2 linked regions of the Homo sapiens genome follow. The protein of the gene in region 1 interacts with the protein of each later gene in a pairwise test. Each region holds a gene or a part of one and is shown on either strand. Other genes may lie near its edges.

The links. Proteins that work in one complex are often made in the same cells at the same time.
Region 2: the proteins of SLC16A3 (region 1) and NR2C2AP interact in binary tests that used the Homo sapiens proteins (3 or more experiments, as listed by UniProt).

Annotation. Positions count from the first base shown.
Region 1 is NC_000017.11:82,224,688-82,232,053, reverse strand, and holds the start of SLC16A3 (monocarboxylate transporter 4), read right to left. Parts: upstream 3,013-7,366; 5' UTR 2,948-3,012; exon of another isoform or gene 1-2,947. UniProt on the Homo sapiens protein: Proton-dependent transporter of monocarboxylates such as L-lactate and pyruvate. Plays a predominant role in L-lactate efflux from highly glycolytic cells.
Region 2 is NC_000019.10:19,200,909-19,208,344, forward strand, and holds NR2C2AP (nuclear receptor 2C2-associated protein), read right to left. Parts: upstream 2,507-7,436; 5' UTR 2,153-2,506; coding exon 2,115-2,152; intron 1,974-2,114; coding exon 1,883-1,973; intron 1,668-1,882; coding exon 1,562-1,667; intron 1,491-1,561; coding exon 1,423-1,490; intron 1,134-1,422; coding exon 1,017-1,133; 3' UTR 812-1,016; coding exon of another isoform or gene 741-811; 3' UTR 656-740; coding exon of another isoform or gene 566-655; 3' UTR 501-565; downstream 1-500. Other genes in the region: DNA-binding protein RFXANK, read left to right, coding at 741-811. UniProt on the Homo sapiens protein: May act as a repressor of NR2C2-mediated transactivation by suppressing the binding between NR2C2/TR4 and the TR4-response element in target genes.

The DNA.
Region 1 (7,366 bases):
GGGGAGGGGCCTCCCTCAGTTCCCTTCTTCCCCCGCAGCCCCTGTTGTGCAAACAAGGAAGGAGCAGTGAGCAACTCCCGGCAGCCCCGCCCCAGGCGCCTGCAAAGGTGTCGGGGCCGAGCTTGCAGGGGGTGGACGCTGCGCAAGGGGCTGCCCCAGGCCTGGGCCCTGCGCCCCACCTCTGACCCCCGCAGACCCCTCGCGCAGCCCGTGCCCTGCCGCTCTGTGTCCGCTTACATCACGACGGCAGGGGCCGGCGGGGCAGACACACAGGCCTCATTTGCGGATTGGCCACTCCCACCCAGGGCCAGGGCCAGGAGCCCCCACTGGTGCCCCAAGTGGGGCTGGGCGCAAGTCCCCTTTGGGAAAGGAAGGCTGCATGTGCCGCCGCAGGCTTCAATCCTGAGCTGGCACTGCGGGGTCTCAGAGCTTTGAAGACCCCTTCTCCGCAAGGCTGTCACCGCCCTGGGGCCGGGAGGTGGTGGGGGCCGGAGCTGGTCCAGAGCCGCCGTCCCCCACCTCCGAGGCCTCCTGGACCCCGCAAGGCCGCCCCTCCACCCTAAAGCCAGTGCCTGAAGGCCAAGGCTGGAAGGGGAGTCGGGTCAGGAGGCGCCCCCTACCCCACCGCCGCCCAGCGGGCGTCGTGGGGACCCGGGGGGGAAGGTGAAGACCGGGAGGAGGCAGGAAGGCGGGAGGTGCGGGGCGAAGGGGGGAACCCAAAACTCCACCCTCGCCAGGAGAGGCCCCTCCTCGGCGCAATCCCCGCCCGGGCCGGAGGGACGGCTGGAGGGCGCCTGCGGGTTCCGGCTTCCCGGCTCTGCGGGCGGGGGTCGGCGCGGGTGGTCGAGGCTGGGCGGGGCCCACCCGGGGGAGGGGGAGGGAAGGATGCTCCGCCCGGCCCCGCCCCGCCAGCCGCGGGACGTGGGGGACGTGACCGCGCCATGGGAGGAGCCCCCGTATTGCCCGCAGTAGGCGCCCTACTGGACGCTACCGTAATTGCCGGCGCGCGGGTCCACCGGGGTCAGCGGAGCCCGGGAGCCGCGCCAGGCGTCGGGGCCTCGAAGCCACAGGGCGGGGCCGACTCCACTTGCTGCAGAGGTGGGACCAGTGGGCGCGGCTCGGGACTCGGGGGCGTCGACTCGTGAACTGCGGGTCTCGGAGCAGGAGCCCGGCGGTTCGGTTCCGTTGCGTGCGGCTGCCCGGCGTGGCCCATTTCACAGATGGGCCTGACTCGGGCAGGTGACGCTAGGAGGACGCCCTGAGCTCTGTCTGCTCCCGCCCCGCCCCTGCCCCAGGGCCCGGGCACCTCCAATGGCTCTGCGCCACTGCCCGGAAGGCCCCCGCTGGGGCCCAGAGTGTGGCCCACATTTGGCACCTCACTGGAGGGAGCGGCACAGGCCCTTCTGTCCCACGTGGCCAGGTCACCCCAGGACCCACCGCTGAGCCAGCCGAGCCTGGCATAAGGGTCACTGCAGGCCAGTAGGGGGGACCCGTCCGGCCTGACGGCTGGGCTGGGATCCATAGAGCCCTCTGGTAGCTGCCCCTCCAAAGTAAAGTGCCCCGCTCCAGTCAGTGGGGTCTGGCCTGATCGTGCAGGCCACATGGCTTTCTGGGTGGCCTGGATGGCGGGCCCTGCCCAAGGTCACATGGGGTCGTTACCAAGCCTGCCTTGAGACCAGGCCTCCAGGTGCCCACCCCAGACTCTGTCCACACCATGGGGCCCTGGGGGACAGACGCTGCACGTGCCACGGCAGAGCCCCCATGCACTCAAAGCCTCTCTGGGGGCAGACACCCCCCCACGGCCTCCTAGCACCTCCTCAGTTCCTTCCCTCCATGAGGGAGTCGAGCCCAGCCGCCTCCACACCACGCTGGCGGAATAGACCCTCCTTCAGCAGGGTCAGGCCAGCACCCACCTGACTTCCAGGCCTGTGCAGTGAAGCTGGGACCTTGGACTCCCCGGCCCCAACAGACACAAGACCTCCCACCCTTGTGCTCAGCATGGACAAGCCCCTGGGCCTTGGGGTGGGCCAACTGCCATTTCCCGCCCAGCAGGCCTGACTCTGGCCATCACCAGGAGAGGGACCCTTTCAGCCCATGCCTCTGGGACAGAGAGGAGGACAGCCGCCCCTCGGCTCCCCCCATCGTCCCTCACCGACTCCAGCCACCCCTGGAGGCCCCGGCCAGAGCTAAGGGCTTCCCTTCCACTCTGCGGCTCCTGTCTCTTGACTGGCCCAACACCCAGGGAGGCTCCTGACCAACCCACTTTTCGTATAGGGAAACTGAGGCGTGGGTTAGGAAGTGGGAGGCTACCAAAGGCTGCGCCTGGTTTTCCCACGAGCTGGGGGCCAGGGGTGGAGGTAGGGCGAACCCAGGGAGCCCAGCCTGGCTCTGGAGAGGGTCCCCCACTTCCCTGCACGGTCTCGGGCTGTTAGTCATTGCCCAAGGGCGGGTGTGGGTCGGGGAGTGTTCAGGGTGTTGCGAACAGGGGAAAGCGCCACGGCCCGAGCGCAAGTGCTCCCCACTCCCTCGGGGAGGCCACCCATACAGGGAGGGCTGCAGCAGCCCCACCAAATATAGCCCGCGCCCCCCGCCACCGCGGACCGAGCTATTTATACCCGGACCGGGCTTGGCCGCCGGCGCAGCCATCTCCTGGCCCGAGCCCAGCCCCTGAGGGCAGCCCGACGGGTGGGCGCCGGGCCGGACCGGGGGAGACGAGACTGGGCAGCCAGGTATGCGAGGGCGCGGAGGGGCGCGGCTGGCTCTCGGGAGCCCTCGGTGGGGCCCGCTCGGGGTCGAGAAGGCTAGTCCATGCCCCGGGCGCCCCCGGACCTGATGGACAAAGTGGGCGGGGTGGGGGTGAGAGCGCGGACCCCGAGGTCGCCCCCTTGCCCGGCACGGGGGAGCTCCTGGGCCCCGGCCCGCGCGCGAGCATCGCGGCCGCGCCTACCTGCCGCCGCTGGGCCGCCTCAGCCCGCCTCTCGCCGCCTCTCGCCGCCTCTGCCCGCCTCTGCCGGTCCGCTCCGCGCCGGGGGCGACTTTAAGTGCTCGGGTCGCTGGCGCGGCACGTCCCCCGCGCACGTCACCGCCTGGCGCCGCCCCTGCGCGCCCCGCCCGGACCCCGCGCCGCCTCCGGACGGGCTCCCGGGCCGCAGCTCCCCGACGGCGCGTCCCGCAACCCCGCCGGGCCCAGGGACCCCCCCAACCGGAACCGGCCCCGTCGGCGCCCCCGGCCCGGAGCTGGCCCGCCCCCTCTGCTCCTCGGGACTGGGTCTTCCCGGCCTCGCCTCCCCCGGAGTCCAGGCTCGCTTCGCCCCTCCGCCCCGCCGTCCCTCCGTTTCCCCGCCTCGGAGCGCAGCGCGGCAGGTCCCAACGTCCTCCAGGGCAGCGACCCCTCGCCCCCCAACGCCGGGGCCCCTTTGGTGGGGAGGTGCGCGCGGGTCCCGTGGGGTTCCGGCCGCCTGGCTCAGCTCCGGGGCCCACATCCTCCCTCTCTGAGGCCACGTCCGACCTGTCCCCCTTCAGACCTCCGCTTCCTCTCCGGTCCCGGTGCGGACGGCGGCTCTTCCTGGCTAGGGGAGCGGCCCGCGGCCTGCGCTGCCTGGATGTGGGGCACGGCCTCGCCCTCCCTGAACTTCCGTTTCCCCAGGTGGCTCCGCGCCCTGCGGGGCCCTACAAAGCCACCGACTCCAGCCCTGCGCCCCTGCCCCGCCCCTCTCGCGGCCCAGAACCCGACGCGGAGGCCGGGGCGGCTCCCACCTTCGGGGAGGCGAGGGCTGCCCACCCGCTGGACCTCGTGAGGTGCTTCTCCCAGCCTGTTTTCTCTCATTTGCAACATGGAAATAACGGGCCGCTTTGGGTGCTGAGGTTTGAGGTGGCTCCAGGGAGTAAGGCCTTTGTTGGCCTGGACCAAGGAGTCTAGTTGTCAGGGCCACCCTGCCAGGGCCACAGGAATGCTTTAACTGGCCCCTCCCGGACCCGGGGGCTTCGGGGACCGAGGCACTGGTAAGCCCGTGCCTTCACACACAAAGGAGGCAGGGGGTATCAATGGAGGACCCCTCCAGAGGGCAAGGGGAGGCCACCCCTGACAGTGAGGCCGTGTGGGCCTTGGCTCTCCATCTGCAGCCCAGCCTTGCGGGACATCAGGTCCAGTAAGGCCGCCTGTTCTTTCTATGTAATGTTACAAGCCCACCCTCCCGCTGGCATTCACAGAGGCTGGGTCTGGCCCTCACCCCTACCTGGGGCCCAACCACCCCCATCCCCAAACATCAAGATGAGGGCACGTGCCTGTGAGCAGAACACAGGCCTGTGGCAAGTGGTGAGGGGGCCTCCAACTTCACAGATGAAGACTCTACTTAGTTGGCCCGTGCTGCTCCCGCCCAGGGCAGGTGGTGCTCCCGCCCAGGGCAGGTGGTGCTCCCGCCCAGGGCAGGTGGTGCTCCCGCCCAGGGCAGGTGGTGCTCCCGCCCAGGGCAGGTGGTGCTCCCATCTTCCTGCACCAGGCGATTCATCAGTTTCTGAGGAGGGAGAGCAGCAGAGGGGTGCGAGGCACCGTGGACAGCTGCGGGAATGGGTCCCCTATGGGGTATTGCCTGCCGGGGAGGCGAGGGTACCGTGCTCCCCATCCCAGATTGTTGAGTCACCAGGCCTGCCAGCTGGGCTTGGGGCCCCCACTGAAGCCACCGAGACACCTTCCACATCTGCCTACAGCTTGGCCCTGATCCCTGAACCCTGAACCCCCACCGTAGAGCAGCAACAGGGGGAGGGAGACAGAGCCAGAGAGCCTGGGACCTCACTGCCCCCTCCTGCCTCCTGAAGGACAAAGGGGCGCCCCTGCCAGGGCCAGGTTTTCTCCCAGCTGGGAAGACGCCCAGTCATCCCTCCAGGGGTCCCAGGGAGCACCTGTGGTTTGGTTCTGACCCCCAGGCCTGGCCCCCTCTTAGGCATGGCTTCCCCTGGGTGTGGGCCCCAGGACTGTCCACCCAGAGCTGGGGTGGAGCCTCCCTGCCCTCAGAGGGGAGGGGAGCAGGCAGGCCAGTCAGCACTGGCTCCCAGCAGAGAGGTCAAGTCTGTGGGCTTTGACTGGGGGGACTGGAAGACCACAGAGTGGTCACAGTGATGTGATGGCTGCTGGGGGCTGGGGCTGGGGGCCTGCCAGGTTGTTACCCAGAGGAAACAGGCAGCGCAGCTATCAAGCAGGCCACTTGGGACAGCTCACCCGGAGCCTGGACAGAACAGGACGCTGTGGGGTGGGGCCAGAGCCTCCGAGACCCTGGGCCCCTCTCCGAGGATTCTGGCACTCCGGTAGCATGAGGTACCCCTGACCTCCAAGTGCTCAGCTTTTAGAAAGGCCCAGCAGTTGGTGGCGGGGGGCATTCCAGGCCTGGCACCAGGGCCCAGGTGGCCAGGCTCCATCTGACACAGGGCTCCAGGGGCACCTGGGCACGGAATACCACTTTGGTTTCGGGTAAGATGCCTTCTGGGGGTCATGCCCCTCCCTCAACAACCCTGGATGTGTCAGAGACAGCGATGGTGCAGGGGAGAGGCACTTCTGGCCATGGTGCGATCCCCTGGCCCGCTGGGGGTCTGGAGCTGCGGGAAGGGGTGGGAAAGGCCACGTGTGTCCGCATCTCTGCACCCCACTCTGGGTGGTGTTGGGAGCACCCACCCCACACCTGGCTCCAACGCTTGCTCCCCCACAGTGGCCCTGGGTCAGACCCCAGGCCCAGGCCGCCCTTTTCTGCAGGAAAGGAGGTGGGGGTGTGGACAGGTGGCACCATCCCTGGCCAGTGAGCAGCTTCACAGGACGCCCCCCTCTGACCCCACAGCCCCCAGTCTTGACTTCTCCCCCAGACCCAGGTGCCTCCACCTGCCCCTGGCTGCCCCAACTTCCTTTTGTTCCCAGTTCCAGCTACAGGGCCCTCCAGGCCCTGGAATGTCCTCCTAGGGGCCTGGCCCCCAGGTCCTTCCCACCCTGCTCCCTGGCAGGCTTAAGCTCCCTGGGGTGCGCAGTCCCACCTTTTCCAAGAGCAACCTTTGTGGGAGGGGGGCGGGCAGGAAGGGGAGGCTGGGATCTGCTTCCTCCCCATGGGCTGCCCCGAGAGTCCCTACCTCTGTGTCCTGAAATGACTTAGGAAATGCGGAGAGGCTTTTCTCCAAGGGTCACCACAGCCGCTGCCCCAGGGAGGGTGGCAGAACAGGCCCCCGGACCTATCAGGGCCAGATCTCAGGTCCCAGGGAACCTTCCAGGGTCGGGGGAGCCACACAGCCCACATCCTGCGTCCTTGGGAACCCCGCACACCATTTTCCAGATCCCAGCAGGGCCACCCCGTCCTGACCCAGTCTTGGCCGTACCACCCAGCACCAGTTGCCGCCCCATGGACAGGACTGGGGCCAGGACTGGCCGGGTCAGGGGAAGAAAGCCGAGTCACGGGGAAGGACATTCCGGCCGAGCCACAGCCCCGCCTCCCTGGGGTCCTGGGCTGCCCAGCTCCTGACCCTGCCTGCCTTACAGCTCCCTGCCCAGAGGATCTGGTGACACAACTGTCACAGCCTGTCATTCCACACCTGTGGCCACACCGTCCCCAGACTCCAGACCCACGCGGGGCGTGTGGCGGGACGTGCCCAGGCTGGATGGGGGATGCAGCCAGGACGGTGCCAGGGGAGGCTGGTGCCCTCCACCACACAGAGCCTAGACCCAGGACCAGGACCATGGCCCAAATCTGCGCCCTCCCTTCACTCGCCCCAGAGAACCTGTCCAGGCTCACAGAAAAATACATATTATTATTATTTTTTTTTGACAGAGTCTCACTCTGTCACCGGGCTGGAGTGTAGTGGTGCATTCTTGGGTCACCACAACCTCTGCCTCCCAAGTTCAAGCGATTTTCCTGCCTCAGCCTCCTGAGTAGCTGGGGTTACCGGCACCTGCCACTACGCCCAGCTAATGTTTTGTATTTTTAGTAGAGACAGGGTTTCACCATTTTGGCCAGGCTAGTCTTGAACTCCTGACCTTGTGATTCACCTGCCTGGCCTCCCAAAGTCAGAAAAATACATATTAACCTGGCTGCTGGTCCTTCCCAGGGAGTGGCAGCCCAGGTAGGGGGCAGAGGTGAAAAGGGCAGGAGAAGCCGCACCGTGGCCCAGTGGGGCCTGACCCACCACACTGCTGCCTGTGGTGGGTGTTGGTCATGGGGTTTGGGTGTGATGCATGGTGTAGGGTTATGAGAGGGCCGGTTATGTGGGGTTGGGGGTGTACACGGGCGTGAGGGTGTGTCTGTGCACAGGTGTTGGGGTGCGTCTGTGCATGGATGTTGGGATGTGTCTGCACGGGTGTAGGGTTGTGTCTGCACAGGTGTCTGTGCACGGGTGT
Region 2 (7,436 bases), on another chromosome or scaffold:
CTGCCTCAGCCTCCCAAGTAGCTGGGATTACAGGCATGCACCACCATGCCCAACTAATTTTTTGCATTTTTAGTAGAGTCAGGGTTTCTCCATGTTGGTCAGGTGATCTCAAACTCCCGACCTCAGGTGATCCACCCGCCTCAGCTTCCCAAAGTGCTGGGATTACAGGCATGAGCCACCACACCCGGCTGCACCTGGCTAATTTTTGTAGTTTTAGTAGAGATGGGGTTTCATCATGTTGGTCAGGCTGGCCTTTCCTGACTTCAAGTGATCCACCTACCTTGGCCTCCCAAAGTGCTAGGATTACAGGTGTGAGCCACCAAGCCCAGCCTAATTTTTAAATTTTTTTGGTAGAGACAGCGTTTTGCTCTGTTGCCCAAGCTGGCCTCAAATTCCTGAGCTCAAGCAGTCCTCCCCACTGGACCTCCCAAAGTGCTGGGATTATAGGTGTGAGCCACCATGCCCAGGCTCATCTTTTCATGAAAGTCACAATTCACACATTTTGCTTGGTAGGAAATATTTTTATATTAATTCTGAAAAGCTACAAAAGTGCATTTTTACAAACTTAGGGGAAGTTGAGGTTCCTGGGGTGAGTCCTCGGTTCTCCCAGCTTTGCTCTGTAATGCAGGTCTCTGCAAGGGTCCCTGTTTGTCCCCTAAGGGGAGAGCGCAGGTTGGCCTGTGCCTCCACCCCACTCCCGATTCAAGCTCACAGCCCACCTTTTCCCTGCCCCATCTCAGTGCAACAGGTGATCGAGAACCACATCCTCAAGCTCTTCCAGAGCAACCTGGTGCCCGCTGACCCTGAGTGAAGGCCGCCTGCCGGGGACTCAGACACTCAGGGAACAAAATGGTCAGCCAGAGCTGGGGAAACCCAGAACTGACTTCAAAGGCAGCTTCTGGACAGGTGGTGGGAGGGGACCCTTCCCAAGAGGAACCAATAAACCTTCTGTGCAGAATGAGGGACTTTGCTGTGCTTCCCGGAGGGCTTCCTGGAGGAGACAGCCCCTAGAGGTCTCACACCTTCTCCCCAAGCACCCGCAGGTGGTAGATGACCACACGGCCAAAAAAGTCAGTGGCATCCTCAAACGTCACCTTCAGCCGGTCCACTTCAGCAGCTGGTATGGGGAAAGTGTGAGCGTGGGCAGTCAAGGGAAACTGGTGATTTCTGGTTTCCCACCCGCAGGCCCCCACCCCTTCCAGACCCAGCTCACACTCCACCGATGTGGGCAACCTGGGGAAGCTGCAGGTCCCTCTAAGCCTCTCACACAGAACAGGTGGTCATCAGCACCATTTTACAGAAAAAGTGGAGTCCTAGAGGTCACGTGTTCAAGATCACACATCAGGGTTCCCATTCGGGTTTGGGTGAGTCCAAAGCTTCCAGAGGCACAGACCACCCACCCCAGAAGCAGGGGCAGGATATCTGAAGCGAGTTGTTGTCCTCAGGGTAGAAATCTACAATCTTGTGGAGAGCCTGAGTGCCCTGTGAACCTTCAGCAGAGAAAGGCAATGAGTGTCTGGGGTGACCCCTGGAACCCCTGCCACCCAGGGCCTTCTAGTACCTTCCAGGCAGCCCCGGCGACTGGAGAAGCCACCCTGAAACTGGATCTGCAGCTGGGAGACACGGATGAGCTGGGGAAACTCCAGCGTCACCCACTGGGAGGGGCCCTGGAAGCAGACAGGGAAACTGAGGCGCAAGCTCACTGCAGGCACAGAGCCCTGCTATGCCTGTCTCATTCACATAGTTCTTGGAATGGAGGGGAAGAAGGAAATTCGGCACATGTTCCTTTCCTGGCCACCCATGAGGGCCCCCTGACGTTCTCAAGGCATGAGATCTGAATCTGAATCACCCTAGAGATGGAGGGTCGAGGGAGGCGCCTCACCTGGTCTGAGTTCCAACATGTCTCCTCATCCTGGTCGAAAAGATGTTTTTTTCCAAACTGCCGAGTGTTGCGATTCAGCACTGAACTCACCCTGGAGGCACCAGGATCAAGGCGAAGAGAGGGGCTGAGACCAGCTCTCAGCTCCGCGGAGGGCCTGACCCCCAGATCTGTCCACTGAGGGCTCGACCCCAGGCTTAGGGCCTCGCCACTGCCTGTCCCCACAGACTCTTACCTGCTCACTGTCTCTGGACAAACCAAAGAGTGGGTCATGTCGGTTCCACAAGACCTCGCAGGGCTTAGGATTGGGCACAGCCTTGGTTCGAATCCCGGCGCCTCCTCAAGCTACAGGGCGGCGCGATCTTGGCTACGCCTTGGCCTGAACGTCCTCACCTGTAACTTGGGACGAGAACCGCCACTCCCTCGCCCACCCCAGTCCTAAATGTCGCCTCGATCAATCCCCTGCCGGAAAATTTGGGAGAGAGGATCAGGGAAACCGCCAATGCCCGGAGGCCAGGCCTTTCACAGGAAACAGATTTCCCGCGGGTTTCGGGGGCGGTGGCTTTTTGTGCGAGGCTGTTTCTCTGCGAATAGCTCTTGGAGCCAAATCTTGGGACCCGGAACCGCGTGGGCTTGGCGCATGCGTGTTGTAATTCAGGCGCCGACCGCGGACGCTCCAGAGGTGGGGTTTGGTTCGACCCCGCCCCTTCATGCTCGCTTCTTAAAGGGCCCGGGTTCGATGATTGAATTTACCTTGGTTCCCTTGAAGCTGTAGGGAAAAGGCTGGCTGCGCGCACGGGGCGCTGTCCCTCGGCGCCCGAAGGTGTAGAGCACTGATTTTGACTGATTTTGGAATCCGAAAGACTTCCTTTTTTTTTTTTTTTTTTTGAGGCGGAGTCTCACTGTCGCCCAGGCTGGAGTGCAGTGGCACGATCTCCGCTCACTGCAAGCTCCGCCCCCTGGGTTCACGCCGTTCTCCTGCCTCAGCCTCCCAAGTAGCTGGGAATACAGGCGCCCGCCACCACGCCCGGCTAATTTTTCGTATATTTAGTAGAGACGGGGTTTCACCGTGTTAGCCAGAATGGTCTTGATCTCCTGACCTCGTGATCCAGCCGCCGGGGCTTCCAAAGTGCTGGGATTACAGGCTTGAGCCACCGCGCCCGGCCTTTTTTTTTTTTTTTTTTTGAAGTGGGGTCTCACTGTCACCCAGGCTGGAGTACAATGGTGGGATCGCGGCTCTCTGCGACCTCTGCCTCCCAGGCTCCAGCAATCCTCCTACCCAGCTTCCCGAATAGTTGGAACTAGTAGGCGCGCGCCACCACGGCAGGCTATTTTGTTTGTTTGTTTGTTTGTTTGTTTTTTGGTAGAGATGAGGTTTCGCCATGTTGCCCAGATTGGTCTCGAACTCCTGGGCTCAAGTGATCCGCCCACCTCAGCCTCCCAAAGTGCTGGGATTACAGGCGTAAGCCACCGCGCCCGGCCAGAGAGACTTCCTATGACAATGTCTTTCTTCCTACTCTAACCTACTCTACCCTAACGGCTACCCTAACCTACTCTAACCTACTCTACCCTAACCACTAAATGCAGCCTGGGAATCCCCGAACTTCACTGCCTCCCGGAGGCCAAAGGCAGAGTTGTGGAAAAGGCCACGATGTTGGGAGTATCTGAAGTCCTCATCAACCCTTTTTGTTCTTGTTGGGACAGAGGAGCCCTGGCCTCCAAGTTTGTCTTTCCCAGAAAATGCTGCTGGGACGTCAAGGAAGGCTTCTTGGAGGAGGGAGCATGCGAGGTCGGGTGTTTTTTGTTGTTTCTGTTTTGTTTTGTTTCGAGACGGAGCCTCACTTTGTTGCCCAGGCTGGAGTGCAGTGGTGTGATCTCAGCTCACTGCAACCTCCGCCTCCCAGGTTCAAGTGATTCCCCTGCCTCAGCCTCCTGAGTAGCTGTGACTACAGGTGCGCACCACTATGCCTGGCTAATTTTTGTATTTTTAGTAGAGATGGGGTTTCGCTATCTTGGCCAGGCTGGTCTCGAACTCCTAACCTCGTGATCTGCCCGCCTTGGCCTCCCAAAGTGCTGGGATTACAGGTGTGAGCCACCGCACCCAGGCTGTGAGGTGGGTTTTGAAGCATGAACAGGAGTTTGCCAAACAAAGCCTCAGATACCAAGCTGAAGATTTGGTTCACTGATTCACTAGACACCTCCTGCAAGCTCTACTGTCACACTGTCATGTCCAGCCTTCTGCTGGATGATGCTGGGGACAGCAAGAGGCCTCAGCTCCAGGCCTGTCCCAGAGGAGCCCCTGATCTGGGCAAGACAGAGGTAGACATAGACACTCCTAGCCCCAAGGGAGAGATGGGGCCGGAGGAGCAGGGGCTCTACCTGGAGGAAGGGCTTCCTGGGAAAGGGGATGTTAGAACTGCACCTTAATAGGGGGTCAGGCGCCAGGAATTCACAAGGGTGAGAAAATCTGGAGTGGGGAGGGTGTCCCAGGCAGGGAGCTTAGCATAAGCCAAGGCCTAGTTGGGTGAAAGACCATGAATTTGAATAAAATATGTGGAGCCACATCCTGCTGGGCCCGGAGCAGTCATGGAAGGTGTTGGAGAAAGGGCAGGACACCATCCGTTCTGCATGAATGGAGGGTTCCAAGACAGAGCAGCCACTGGCAAGAGGCTGTTGTTCCTGGCTTTAGCTGAATGGTCTGGCAGCCAGCCCCTTTCTTCAAGGGCTGGAGGAATGGTCCTTCCGGCATCCTACTAGTGTCTGCTCAAACCCACCCCAGGCAGCAGGGGTGGGGGCTGGCGGGGAAACTGGGTCACCAGCAGAAGGCCTGTCTCTTCAGCCCCTGCCTGCCAGGGCTTTCCGCATTTAGACAGAGTCTGGTGCCATCCAAACCCAACTTCGCTGGTCTCAGGGCTGGGGCTGGAGGTGACAGGAAACTGTGCCCCCAACCTCACCCCCGGAAGGAAGTTAGAAAGAGCAAGGACACTGGAGAGCCCAGATCTGGTTCAAATCCTGGCTGGACCACTCATTGGCTGTGTGACCTTAGAAAAGCACCTTGACCTCTCTGAGCCTCAGTTTCTCATCTGTGAAATGGGGGGAATTCTATTAACGGCACTGTTGGAGGACTCTCTGGGTTCTTCAGGTTGACACATAGTAACAGTAGCTGACTTTCACTGAGAGTCCACCGTGTGTCTGACTTGAAGCCATGTTCTGTCGCCACCCATTGGCTCGTTAAACCTGCTGTGGCTGGTCCCTGTCATTCCCATTTTATAGCTGAGGACACATCAACTTAGCCAAGTCCCCCCAGTGAGGATATGCATGGCTCCAGGGCTCTCCACACCACTCCTGGCTTTGGCATGCGGCCTCCTTGCCCACGGGTATGAGGCCAGCTCCATACCCTCTTCCCGCCTCCTCACCCCACTGGCGCCTGGGCATGAAAGAGCCTCCTGTTTCTCCAGGGAATTAGCAGCTCTGGGCTCCCAGCAGGGCAGCCAAAAGTGGTCCATTCATTCGCTTGAGTGAGGAAAGACTAAGAGCTCCCACCCCCACCCCAGGGAATGGGGCAGGGAGGGCTCTAGAAGGTCCAAAAGCAGCTCCTCTGGTTCACTTGGGGAAACTGAGGCACAGAAAAGCAAAGTCATTTGGCCAAGATCACCAAGGGGAACTGGGATGCAAACCCCAGTCTCACTCTGGAGTTCCCCTAACTGGGCTTGGGTTAGCATTTTTCTGGGGAGAAATTGGAGGTTTAGAGAGAGTCAGGGACTTGCTGGCAGTCACACAGCAAGTTTGGGTCAGTGGGGACTCTCTGCCTTGGTGGTGTCTGGGGAGGCAGCCCCACCCATGCAGAAAACAGGTCCTTCTGTCCATGATTTCATTATCCTGGAACAAGGCAGGGAATGGCCCTCAGATAGCTTCAAGCCTCAGTTTCCCCACTGGGAGATGGATGTAACCTTTTCCCTAAGGTCTTAGCCTGGGGCATCTGCAAGGGAGGGTTTGATGGGATTCCCTGAGCCTGGAGACCCCCATCCGGCAGGTCTGGGTCTGATTTATCTACCGGAGCCCATCAGGACCCCTCTCCGAGGAGACAGATGTTCACACAGTAGCAGCTGGGGTTATGAGTCCTGGTGCAGTGCAAGCCTGGGTCCCACTGGAGGTGACAGTGGGAGTGGGAGGGGTGTCTGGGTGTGAAAGGATTCAGGTGGGTGTGTATGGGAGCACCAGGAGCTGCGTGTGTGTGGCTGTTGTAACAGTGGCTGGGAGGGCTACAGATCTCGGGGTTGGTGGCATTGGTGGTGTTGGTGTGAACATGGTTGTGTGCTCACTACCTGTGGGTGTGTCTGTGACTAGAAACCTGGTTGGGTGTGAGCAATGTGGGGCCAACGTAGGCTCTTTGCTGCTGGCAGGAAGGCGAAGGTGTTGTGGGTGTGAGCAGCAGTGGGTGTGTTTGCATGTGGAGGGACACTGGTGCAGCCCAGCTCATAGCTTTGCCTTCGGTTGTGGAGCAAGTGTGACTTGTGTGTGGCCCAGGCCAGGTATGGTTGTGTGTGGCCTGACCAGGTTGATTGTGTATGTGATTGTGTGTGGCCCATTGTGGCTGTGCATGGCTGGGTGTGGTTGTGCATGGCTGGGTGTGGTTGTGTACGGCTGGGTGTAGTTGTGCATGGCTGGATGTCGTTGTACATGGCTGAGTGTGGTTGTGTATGGCTGGGTGTGGTTGTGCATGGCTGGGTGTGGTTGTACATGGCTGAGTGTGGTTGTGTATGGCTGGGTGTGGTTGTGCACGACCAAGTGTGATTGTGTGTGGCTGAGTGTGATTGTATATGGCCAGGTTTGCCTGTGCATGGTTGGTGAAACCTGTGTGTGGCCCGGTGTGGTTGTGCATGACTGGGTGTGGTTGTGTATGGCTGAGTGTGGTTGTATATGGCTGGGTGTGGTTGTGTATGGCTGAGTGTGGTTTTATATGGCTGGGTGTGGTTGTGTATGGCTGGATGTGGTTGTCATTGGCTGGGTGTGGTTGTGCATGGCTGGGTGTAGTTGTGCATGGCTGGGTGTGGCGTGTATGGCTGGGTGTGGTTGTGCATGGCTGGGTGTGGTTGTGTATGGCTGGGTGTGGTGTGTATGGCTGGGTGTGGTTGTACATGACCAGGTATGATTGTGTATGGCTGGGTGTCATTGTGTATGGTCAGGTTTGGTCATGTGTGGTGGGTGAGACCTGTGTGTGGCCAGGTGAGGTTGCATGTGAGCCACCTGTGCTGTTAGTGTGGCTGGGGTGTGGCTGGGGTGTGACTGTGTGTGTCAGTGGTTGTTGGTGGCATTGTGTGTGACTTACCCATGTGTCACCTTGGGCATGTTCAGAGGCACTTTGGAGGCACTGTCCACCCCTGAGACCCAGCTCTCTTGGAGGGTCCAGCCTCCCTCCCCACCTCTGCTCTGGTCTGCCAGTACCATCCCCCACCCCTCCCCCACTGGCAGCAGCCCCTGGCCCAGGGCCCCAGTGGGGTGGTGGGGACAGAGAAGGCACTCAGGGCTGGGGAGGGGTGCCCAATCCCAGCTCAGG